2 separate regions of the Homo sapiens genome follow, and region 2 is reported to be linked to region 1. Evidence: microRNA targets listed by miRTarBase, many of them from high-throughput screens and not tested one by one. Region 1 holds a microRNA gene; the other region holds the end of a gene's coding sequence.

The links. The annotated mature microRNA hsa-miR-378i reads ACUGGACUAGGAGUCAGAAGG and lies in region 1 at 4,050-4,070, shown strand. An mRNA with a match to its seed (bases 2 to 7 or 8) in the 3' UTR can be bound and repressed. Matches are read on the target gene's strand: a 7mer-m8 pairs with bases 2 to 8, a 7mer-A1 pairs with bases 2 to 7 and ends in A, and an 8mer does both.
Region 2: the mRNA of CELF4 is a reported target of hsa-miR-378i. The part of its 3' UTR that is shown has no 7-base or 8-base seed match.

The regions. Positions count from the first base shown.
Region 1 is chr22:41,919,073-41,927,340 of GRCh38, reverse strand. MIR378I (microRNA 378i) reads left to right here and starts at 4,044; the gene lies at 4,044-4,119. It overlaps TNFRSF13C (TNF receptor superfamily member 13C), which reads left to right and starts at 535. Exons shown (of 3, transcript NM_052945.4): 1 at 535-703; 2 at 1,010-1,240; 3 at 1,787-5,309. The coding sequence starts at 568. The coding sequence ends at 1,974. It also overlaps a transcript of CENPM not described here. RefSeq lists silencers at 475-1,214, 5,542-5,591, 7,272-7,741 and enhancers at 1,307-1,806, 1,807-2,308, 5,022-5,071, 6,602-6,671, 6,752-6,831 and 1 more.
Region 2 is chr18:37,250,975-37,253,974 of GRCh38, reverse strand. CELF4 (CUGBP Elav-like family member 4) reads left to right here. Exons shown (of 13, transcript NM_020180.4): 12 at 37-208. The coding sequence ends at 164. Among named protein-coding and RNA genes, the nearest start is that of SNORA111, 210 kb to the left of the region's middle.

The sequences.
Region 1 (8,268 bases):
CCCTACCCAAGAGGAGGCTCTGGTCTGCCCCCAGACACCTCCCAGCACCCAGCAGAGGGCCCACCCAGGCGGTGCTGGTTGAGGGGCTGAATTGGGGAACCACAGGTAGAAAGAGAGGCCAGGCCGGGTGCGGTGGCTCACGCCTGTAATCCTAGCACTTTGGGAGGCCGAGGCAGGTGGATCACGAGGTCAGGAGTTCAAAACCAGTCTGACCAAGATGGTGAAACCCCGTCTCTACTAAAAATACAAAAATTAGCCGGGCGTGGCAGTGGGCGCCTACAATCTCAGCTACTCGGGAGGCTGAGGCAGAGAATTGTTTGAACCCGGGAGGCAGAGCTTGCAGTGAGCCGAGATAGCGCCATTGCACTCCAGCCTGGGCGACAGAGCGAGACTCCGTCTCAAAAAAAAAAAAAGAAAAGAAAGGGGGGCCCCAGGCGAGCTCGGTCCCACCCAGCAGGCGGGGGCGGGGCAGGGCAGAGTGCTCCCCCCGCCCCCCGCTTCCTCCCCGAGGGCCCCGGAGCCCAGCTCAGCCTCAGTCCCCGCAGCTTGTGCGGCGGCGTCGGCACCATGAGGCGAGGGCCCCGGAGCCTGCGGGGCAGGGACGCGCCAGCCCCCACGCCCTGCGTCCCGGCCGAGTGCTTCGACCTGCTGGTCCGCCACTGCGTGGCCTGCGGGCTCCTGCGCACGCCGCGGCCGAAACCGGGTAAGGGGGACCCACGGGGCGCGCGGCGCCGGCAGCTGCGGGGAGAACGGGGCCCCGATCGCCAGGGCGCAGGCAGAGCCCCGACCCCCGGGGGCGCCGAGGGCTGAAAGGACCCTGTGGGCAGGGCCTGGAGGGGCCCGCGATCACCGCGTGGCCCTCACCGCCGCCTCTCTCCCTCCCCTTGTCCACCGCCCCCCGGCTGTCCCTCCCCTCCCCGGCCAGCCTCGCCCCCCTCCGCCCCTCCCCGTCCCCGCTCCTCCCTCCCCTCGGCCCCCTGGCCTCCCTCCCTGTCCCCTCCCGAAGCAGCCGGGGCCAGCAGCCCTGCGCCCAGGACGGCGCTGCAGCCGCAGGAGTCGGTGGGCGCGGGGGCCGGCGAGGCGGCGCTGCCCCTGCCCGGGCTGCTCTTTGGCGCCCCCGCGCTGCTGGGCCTGGCACTGGTCCTGGCGCTGGTCCTGGTGGGTCTGGTGAGCTGGAGGCGGCGACAGCGGCGGCTTCGCGGCGCGTCCTCCGCAGAGGCCCCCGACGGAGACAAGGACGGTGAGTTCCGTGTGTAGGGGAACCAGTCTGAGCGGGGCGCAGGGGCTGGGGTGTCGGGACGGTCTAGGGGGAGATGCATGGCCCCTGAGGGGGAGAGAAGGGCTTTAAGGGGAAACGGAGACAGAGTGGAAAAGAGTTTGCGCTGAGGAGCTCAGGCTGGGGAGGGAGACATAGTCCTGCCCCTGAGACCCTGGTCGGAGCCAGGAACAGCTCTGCCCTGACAGACCCCAGTGTGAGGAAGAGACAGGTTGCAGGAAGGGGGCCCCGTCTGAGGGAGGAGTCTGTCCTGCCCTTTGGGAGTCTAACGGAGCTTGGTTCCCCCATAAATCCCTGAAGAGTTTGCCAGACTGAGCCCCAGCTCCCCAACTCCCTGCCCTGCCAGCTCCCCACTGGCCAGGCCTCTGGACTCAGGGTCAGCCAGGTGCCACCCCTCCCCACCCTGCATTGGGCTTCATTTGACGGAGGACTGCCCCTCCAGAGGAGTCTTCTAGGGGAGGGAGGGAAGGCTGTGACTGAGTACGGAGCCTCTACCCCCTCTGCCTGCAGCCCCAGAGCCCCTGGACAAGGTCATCATTCTGTCTCCGGGAATCTCTGATGCCACAGCTCCTGCCTGGCCTCCTCCTGGGGAAGACCCAGGAACCACCCCACCTGGCCACAGTGTCCCTGTGCCAGCCACAGAGCTGGGCTCCACTGAACTGGTGACCACCAAGACGGCCGGCCCTGAGCAACAATAGCAGGGAGCCGGCAGGAGGTGGCCCCTGCCCTCCCTCTGGACCCCCAGCCAGGGGCTTGGAAATCAAATTCAGCTCTTCACTCCAGCATGCACATGCCCTCTTTCTGGGACCAGGCTAACTCTGCAGAAGCACAGACACTACAGACCACAGCATTCAGCCCCCATGGAGTTTGGTGTGCTTGCCTTTGGCTTCAGACCTCACCATCTTTGACAGCCCTTGAAGGTGGTAGCCCAGCTCCTGTTCCTGTGCCTTCAAAAGGCTGGGGCACTATGAGTAAAAGACCGCTTTTAAAATGGGGAAGGCACCATTAAGCCAAAATGAATCTGAAAAAAGACCAAGTGGGAGGATGCCTAATTTGTAGTTGGGTGGTTTTTTGTGTTTGTTTGATTTTTTTTTTTTTTTTTTTTTTTTTTTTTTGAGACGAGTCTTGCTCTGTCGCCAGGCTGGAGTACAGTGGCGCGATCTCGCCTCACTGTAACCTCCGACTCCTTGGTTCAAGTGATTCTCCTGCCTCAGCCTCCCGAATAGCTGGGATTACAGGCACGCACCACCACAGCCAGCTAATTTTTGTATTTTTAGTAGAGACGGGATTTCACCATGTTGGCCAGGATGGTCTCGATCTCCTGACCTCGTGATCCGCCCTGCTCGGCCTCCCAAAGTGCTGGGATTACAGGCATGAGCCACCATGCCCGGCCTTGTTTTGTGTTTTGGTTTTTTTTGAGACAGGGTCTTGCTGTATCACGCAGGCTGGAGTGCAACGATGGGTCCCCAGCTAATTGCAGCCTGGGCTCAAGCAATCTTTCTGCTTCAGCCTCCTGAGTAGGTGGGACTACAGGTGCTCCACCTTGCCCAGCTAATTTTTTTTTTTTTTTTTTTTTTGAGACAGAGTCTCGCTCTGTCGCCTAGGCTGGAGTGCAGTGACGCAATTTCGGCTCACTTCAAGCTCCGCCTCCTGGGTTCACACCATTCTCCTGCCTGAGCCTCCTGAGTAGCTGGGACTATAGGCGCCCGCCATCACGCCCGGCTAATTTTTTTTGTATTTTTAGTAGAGACGGGGTGTCACCGTATTAGCCAGGATGGTCTCGATCTCCTGACCTCGTGATCCGCCCGCCTCAGCCTCCCAAAGTGCTAGGATTACAGGCGTGAGCCACCGTGGCTGGCCTTTTTTTTTTTTTAAAGACAGGGTCTCGGTATGTTGCCCAGGCCAGTCTCAAACTCCTGGCCTCAGGCAGTCCTCCCCGAAGGGCTGGGATTATAGGCAGGAGGCGCCGGGCCTGGCCTCTATTTCTTTAATACCTGCCCTCAGAGCCGTCCTGCTTTTAAACTGATGCAAATGGCAGCAGTGAATAATCAATTCATGGGTTCGCTTGCTTTGGGATTTAGTACAAGATTATTTTAAGAAATAACAAAGGAGAAAAGATTGAGCTGGATTTTGCTGATTCTCAGGTATCTGTACCCCAGGGTCAACCCTGAGATTGGCCCAATCTGCCAGAACCTAAGATGCCATTTTGACCCCAGTGGCAGCTTCCAGAGCCACAAGCCTGCATTTGGGAGGAGGTGCGCAGCCTCCAGGGCTGGACTCCAAACTCGAGCTGAAGGAACATGCTGGCAGGTAGCTCTCTCAGGGTCCACCTGGGGTTCCAGCTGCTCCAAGACACAGCACATTTAGCCATAAACATGGAAGGGCTGGGACCTACAGGAGGCTCCTTTGTGTAGAGGCCAGGGCAGGCGTGTGACCTTGAACCAGGTGGACATGAGGTCCCTTGAACTCCCTTCTCTCTCTGGCTTGTTCCCCTGAAGCACTGGCCCCCCAGTGCTGGGCTTATTTGGCCATCCTGTGCCAGCCCCCTGGTCACCCACCGTCACAGTGGAAGCTGCTCCCTCCTCTTACAATGGTGTTCCTTGCTCTGGGGTCTGGGGACAAGACCATCTCTTTCCACTCCTGGACGACACTGTGCACTCAGTCAGCCGCCTCCTACCTGCCCTCCTGCACAGGGTCAGAACCTCCTGACCTGGACTTCGCCCTGGGCAGCTTCCTTGGAACTTGTTGCAGCTTAGCATCTTTGGAAGGGAGCACTGGACTAGGAGTCAGAAGGTGGAGTTCTGGGTGCTGTTTTCCCACTCTTGGGCCCTGGGCATGTTCTGTTCTGTGCATCAGATGTTTTCTGCCTGCCTCCCCCTGAGCTGCCACCAGAGCCACCTGTAGACCCCTGCTTCTCCTGCCCCTCCTGTCCCTTGCCAGGCCTCTGGACTCAGTGCTTCCTGTCCCAAGGACCTGTTGTGTGCCCAGCTTGGAAGACAGTGGCCACTCACATCCAGGTCTCTGCCTGGCTATTTGCTCCATGAACCCATCTCAGATGCCCCTGCCCCCAGGGAGCCAGGTGACAGGGTGAGGTCAAGTGACAAGCAGTAGGTGTGGGAGAGGTTTGGTGGGGTCAGGCCCACATGGGCCCAGCCATCCACTCCCCTTCCATCTGGAGTTGGGGGAGTCTGAGCTGCTCCTGGCCACCCCATCTGCCCCACCCCATCTTTTCCTGGCCACCCCAGCTCCCACCCCATCTTCTCCTGGCCACCCCATCTCCCACCCCATCTTCTCTTGACACCCCATCTCCCACCCCATCTTCTCCTGGCCACCCCATCTCCCACCCCATCTTCTCCTGGCCACCCCATCTTCTCCTGGCCACCCCATCTCCCCCACCCCATCTTCTCCTGGACACCCCCATCTCCCACCCCATCTTTTGCTACAGCCAGGGTTAGCTCAGCAGGTGAAAACCCCGAGGGTGGGTGAAACCCCTCTGGGGCTCAGACATGCAAACCTTGGGCATCTCTCTGTCCCAGCTGGCCCCGCCAGCCGGTAGGAAGTTTCCCCTGAGTTCTCAGTTTTTTCTTCTGAAAAATGAGGGGTTGTATGCAAGGTTCTCCTCCTGGCCTGTGGTCCCCAGAGAAGGGCAGGAAGGAACCTTAGATAATTCTCATATGCATTTAACAGACGAGGAAACTGAGACCCAGAGCCGTCACATCAATACCTCATTTGATCTTCATAAGAGCACCTGGAGGAGGGGGGTGGGGTGTTTGTGTTTGTTTAAATTTTTTTTTGTGAAAAAAATGAAGATAGGCATTTTGTAGACAATCTGGAAGTTCTGGACCGGAATCCATGATGTAGTCAGGGAAGAAATGACCCGTGTCCAGTAACCCCAGGCCTCGAGTGTGTGGTGTATTTTTCTACATAATTGTAATCATTCTATACATACAAATTCATGTCTTGACCATCATATTAATATTTGGTAAGTTTCTCTCTCTTTAGAGACTCCACAATAAAGTTTTCAACATGGTAAGGTTTTCCACCTGGGCATTTGGATACTTTGGTTTTTGCTGTTGTGGCCAAGACGGCACAGGCCACATGCGCCTGTGCAGGAGTCTCTGTTTCCCAGCACAGTTGTTGCGCCAAAGGCCTTGACTTTTTTTTTTTTTTTTTGAGATGGAGTTTCACTCTTGTTGCCCAGGCTGGAGTGCAATGGTGCAATCTCGGCTCACCGTAGGCTCCTCCTCCCAGGTTCAAGCGATTCTCCTGCCTCAGCCTCCCGAGTAGCTGGGATTACAGGCATGCACTACCACACTCAGCTAATTTTGTACTTTTAGTAGAGATGAGGTTTCTCCATGTTGGCCAGGCTGGTCTCAAACTCCCGACCTCAGGTGATCTGCCCGCCTTGGCCTCCCAAAGTGCTGGGATTACAGGCATGAGCCACCGCGCCCAGCCAGCCTTGACCTTTTTGTTTTGTTTTTTTTTTTGAGACGGAGTCTCGCTCTGTCGCCCAGGTTGGGGTGCAGTGGTGCAATCTCGGCTCACTGCAAACTCTGCCTCCCGGGTTCACGCCATTCTCCTGCCTCAGCCTCCTGAGTAGCTGGGACTACAGGCGCCCGCCACCACGCCTGGCTAATTTTTTTGTATTTTTAGTAGAGACAGGGTTTCACCATATTAGCCAGGATGGTCTCGATCTCCTGACCTCATGATCCGTCCACCTCGGCCTCCCAAAGTGCTGGGATTACAGGCGTGAGCCATCGTGCCCGGCCCAGCCTTGACCTTTTTAAAGGTCCCTGTTGGTCCAAATTTTCTCCTGAAAATCTAGACCATTTCACATCCATGAGGAGGGATTATATGGTCCAGTTTGCAGATAGGAAAAGAGAGGCCCTGTGAGGTAATGGGATCCGGCCCAAGATACAACAGGTGGGTGGTGGAGCTGGGCGAACCCTGGGCTCCTGCGCTTGGCGGCCATGCCTGCCCAGCAGAATGTCATTGGCCCGGACCCCCTCCTTGGGAGCGGAGAACTCGGGGACTGATGCCAGGCCCCACTCCCTGGTTTCATCACTACTCAGATTTTCTCCCCAACTGTTCTCTCATTTTGATAAGAGGGATCCCAGACAGACTCTGGAAGCGCCGTTTTGCGGGTGGGAACTGAAGGGAAAAGGCCTCTCTCTGAGCCTGTGTTTCGGGCCAGCTTTTCCTGAAGGAGGGTCTGATTCCCACCAGGTCCCCAGGGCCCTGGCCGGTGGGGGCAGGCCTGGCTGAAGTCTCGCTTCCTCCTGGGGCTTCCTGCAGGCCCCTTTCACTTCCTGCCTGGTAGCCAGAGGCTGGGGGCTCCAGGAGGGGTTGTGGAGGCCCAGCTGGTGAGGCCAGGGAGGAAGGCCTGACCCCCCACTTTCGTTTCAGCAGGGATGGCTCAACACAGCACTATCCCTGCAAGCTGGTAGCATCTCACTGGGCCTCAACTCTCTGGGCCCCTCTTCCCATCTGCAAAATGGGGCTCTTGAGGCCCACCTAGCTGTCCTTGGAGATTGAAGAGGTCCTGTGGCATGTAGGGACAGAGGGACCCCTGCTAGAGCCAGGGAACGCCCCCAGCAGGGAGGTGTGAGCAGGCCTGGTCCTGCCCTCATGACCCGAGGGTGGGGAGAGAATGGGGGTGCGGTAGAAACGACTGCCCCAAATAGCGGAATAGCGGGGCAGAGTCGGGGAGCAACCGGGAGGAGAGAGATGCCAGAGTTCCCCGCCCCTACGCTTTCCTCCCGGGACTCCGAAGGGCGCTCAGTGGTTGGCGTGGGGGACGGGGGGAGGGACGCTACTGGGGTCCCGGGACCCAGAGGAACCTTGGGCATCTCTCCACTCCCCTAGGCTGCGGATAATCTGGGATCCAGGCCCGAATCCAGCGACTTCGGGGCAAGCGAGTCTCTGCGCGGCTTCCGCCGTCAGCCCCGGCCACCACCGGCCCCGGGAGATTTGGACGTGGGGCGGGGGTAGGGGGTGCTGCCAAGGGGCGGGGTCAAGAAGAGAGGCGGGGCTGAGGGACCCCCAAGCCTCAAGGTGGCCGGAAAGGGGCGGGGCCAGCGGCATGCCTAAGGGGTGGAGTCAAGGCCAAGGGGCGAGGAAAAAGCTTGGGACCGGATAAGGGGCGGGACCAAGGCCAAGGGCGCCTGCTTCGGGCTCCCGACCTCTGCGCCCTCGGGAGTCCGGGTCCTCACGCGCATCCCGAGCCCTGGGGGCCTGGATGCGGCCCACGGCCCCGACTCAAGGGCGAGGCTCAGGGGGGAGGGCGCAAGACGCCTCCGCACAGAACTGTGACCGAGGAGCAGGGGGGCTGCCGGGGAGGGCGCACCTGTCCCCGTGCACGCGCTGTGGCCTCCGTGGAGCTCTGTCCTCTCTTGGTTCCCGCGCTAAGGTCTCGGTGTCCGCTCCGGATTCGCACGTACACTGAGGGCTTTGGAGCCTCCCAGTCCCGCCGCTCCCTGGCGACCTCAGGAGCCCGGGCGCCCCCTCCCTCCCACGGGCAGCTGGAGCCTGAGTCAGAGTTGCCTCGCGGGAGACAAAGACAGCCGTGGGCCCTCCCTCCAGAACCCCTCCTGGTATCGGCATTTGCACCAGCAGGGAGCCCAGAGTCCCCAAGAGCCTCTGCTTCTTGGGTAACTGCATCATTGAGGAAATGGAAGTGAAATTAGCTTAGGAATGAGGCCTTGGAGGCTTGTGGGTGGCATCCGCGGTCACGGTCTTCTCAGCCTGGCTTCAGTGTCTCTGGGGCCCACTGCTTCTCCCTGTAACCCTGCCGAAATGCTGGTAGCCCATCTTGCAGATGACAAAACTGAGGCCTAGAAAGGTTGAATGGCCCTGAAGAGCAGGAATTCCAACCCGGTCAGCCTGGCTCCAAAATAAAGGATAAAGGCTGGGCGCAGTGGCTCGCACCTGTAATCCCAGCACTTTGGGAAGCCAAAGCGGGCCGATAACTTGAAGTCAGGAGTTCGAGACCA
Region 2 (3,000 bases), not on the chromosome of region 1:
TGGAAACCCAGGCCCTCGTCCCTCGTGTCTCGCCAGGCTTCGTGAGCTTCGACAACCCGGCCAGCGCGCAGACCGCCATCCAGGCCATGAACGGCTTCCAGATCGGCATGAAGAGGCTCAAGGTGCAGCTGAAGCGGCCCAAAGACGCCAATCGCCCGTACTGAGCGCCGGCGGGAGCGTCCCCCGGGGGAGACCAGGACTCGCACAGGTAACCGGGGGCGGCCGGGGCGCGGGGACGGGGGTTGGGAGGGAACCAGACGGACCCGCCGCCTCCTCCGGCCTCCGTGGGCCGGACCCTCACTGGTGCCTTGGACCCGCTGCGCCCGGCTCAACCTGCTCCTCGCCCTGCTCCTCGGGCCAGGCGCAGAGCTGCCGTCACCCCGGCAGAAATGGGCCTGGCCATTTCCCTGTGGCAGGGCCACCAGGGGCAGGAGTGAGGGAGCCACTCCGGGCGGGTGAGGCGAGCCCTGGGCCTGCGCCTCCGGGTCTACATTGGCAGTCCTGTTGGCCAGAGAACCCTGGGGTGAACAGGTGGCAAGCTCAGGCTGAGGGAGGTTGGGGGCAGAACAGGCTCTACCCAGAAGAGCTGCAGCCGCCCGCGGGGCCTGCTCCCAGACCCCCGGCTCTCTCCTCCCCAGTTCTTCCAGGAGGGCTGGTAGCCTTTAGACACTTGACCCCTGCACCCCTGTCTTTCCCCATAGCTCAGTGAAGAGAGGAAGGACAGGATCTTTCAAAGGGAACTTTACTAAGAAACAAAGCAGGATGGGATGAAAGCTGAGGAGGGTGATGGTACAGCACTGAGATCCCGGGCCCTGCCTGCCCCACACGGGTCATGATGAGTGGTCGTTGTTACCTTTTCTGCTGGGCTGGGTCCTGCCTAGGAGCTGAAGACACAGTCAGCCACGCCTCTTCCAGCCCACGTGTTCCCCTGAGCAAAGTTCTTCCTGCAGAAAGAATGGGGGGAGATTCCCCAGGACATCAAAAGTCAACCTTCAGAATGGTTTCCCCCAGTGCTGTGGCTCTTGCAGCCTCGGCTTCTTCACAGAGCAGAGGTGAAGGCTCCTTTCGGGCCTTTCCAGCTCAGCACCCTGCTGCCCTCTGACCGCCCCTCCCTGCCCATGTTCCTCCATTTATTCAGCAGTATTGTGTGCCAGCTACTGTGTTAGGTACTTGGGGTTCAGCAGTGAGCAAGATTGAGAAGGTGGAGACAGACAATAAACAATGACGTGTGATCAAAGAATATGATCTAGTATGTCGAGATTGTTGGCTACAGTTAAACCACATGGTCAGTGTAGATCTCACTGAGGAAGTGAATTGGAGCATAGAAGGTGAGGGAAGCAGCCATGCCCCCGCCTCTGAGGGAACAGTCAGTATGGAGGCTGCAAGGTGGGGCTGCAGAGTGGAGTAGGAACAGCAAGAGACTGGGTTGCTGGGAGAGTGAGGAGGGCCACCTGGTGTGGGGCCTTGAAGGCCACTGCGTGGACTTTGGTCTCTTCTCTGAAATGGGAGATGGAGAGAGCATTGGAGAGTTCTGAATAGGAGAGTGATGGGTAACTTGCATTTCAGTGGGGTCACCCTGGCTTCTGTGTTGACAATAGCTTGTAGGGGGCCAAAGCATAGGTCTACTGCACTGACCACTCAGTCCAGTGTCACAGCAGTTGATGAGATGTGAAGGAATTAATTTCTAGGTGTATTTTGAAAGAGGAGCCAAGGATGAGTCCCAGGCTTTTGGCCCAAGTCACTGGAAGAACAGAGGGATTGGGAGAAAGATCAGGCATGTGAAAAATACACATTTGAGTTTCACAGTCCAGAGTTTGGGAGGGAGGTCTCCAGCTTCCCAGTCTCCCCTCAAATCTTCCACCCAGTGCTGGGGTACAGATACCAGCAGAACACCCTTCCTCCACCCAGAAGTAGCAACTCTCACCCTCAGAGAGCAGGGGCCTTCTCTCTGGGGGAGTGCTTGTGCCTCCACTCTCTGCAATCCTGGAAAAGCAAAACCAGTCTTTCCTGCCTCCTGGTTTCCCATCCTTGCCCATTTCTGGCTTGTTTCCCATCCTTGCCCATTTCTGGCTTGTGTCCAGATGCAAACACACATGTTATTCAGAGTTTGGGCACCTTCTTGTGCCAGGCACTGGGCCCAGTGTGGGGGATGCAAGGATGAATGAGTCACCATCCCTGCCCTCGAGGAGCTTCTGGCTCTGTGCACACACAGACACCAGGAGGCAGCTTGCAGATGGGGGCATTTCCATAGGAATGGAGGGACGGTTTCGTGAAAGCAGCTTTTTCTGTATATAGGACACTTTTTCTTAAATCAGCATAGCTCTGCCATTAAGGTGTGACCTGGGTTAGGGTGCTTGTCCTCTTTGGGCTTCTTTTTTCTCATTAATGAGACTAAGGTGTTAGAGTCAACTAGAGGATTTGGGGGTTAGGGGGATATGAATCAGGCAGGGTCATGTCCCGAGATTCCAAGGGGCACCCCTGAAAGTAGCTTGTCTTAGCCTCCTTGGCTCAAGCCAGGATAAAACCTCTAGGTTAGAAGAATTCCCAGATGAAGGAGTGAGAAGGCAGGTTTATTGTTTGGGATATAAGGTCAGAAGTGCCCACAGGGTTGAACCAGCTGGCATTCAGAGTTGGGGTGGGGGCTTGGGAGGAGTGGTTTAAAACACAGAGTCGGTTCTTCCACCAGGGCATGCAAAGGGCAGAAAGATTAGAACCCTAGACCTTCACACAGTGCTTACCATGCACCAGGCACTGCTCCGAGAAGTAACAACTAGGAGATGTTAACTACATAGCTACAACTACCTATAAGGTAGGTAGTGTTAGTATTTCCATTTCACAGATGGGGCACAGAGAGATTAAGTAGCTTGCCCATCAGCTAGTGAGTCACAGAGCCAAGCTTTGAAGCCAGGGAGCCTTCTCCCCTTCAAGTGAGGAGAATGAGAAGCCCCACCCTACCCTCACCCCAACCTATTACCCCAGAGTACCCTGAATGTCCTGAGG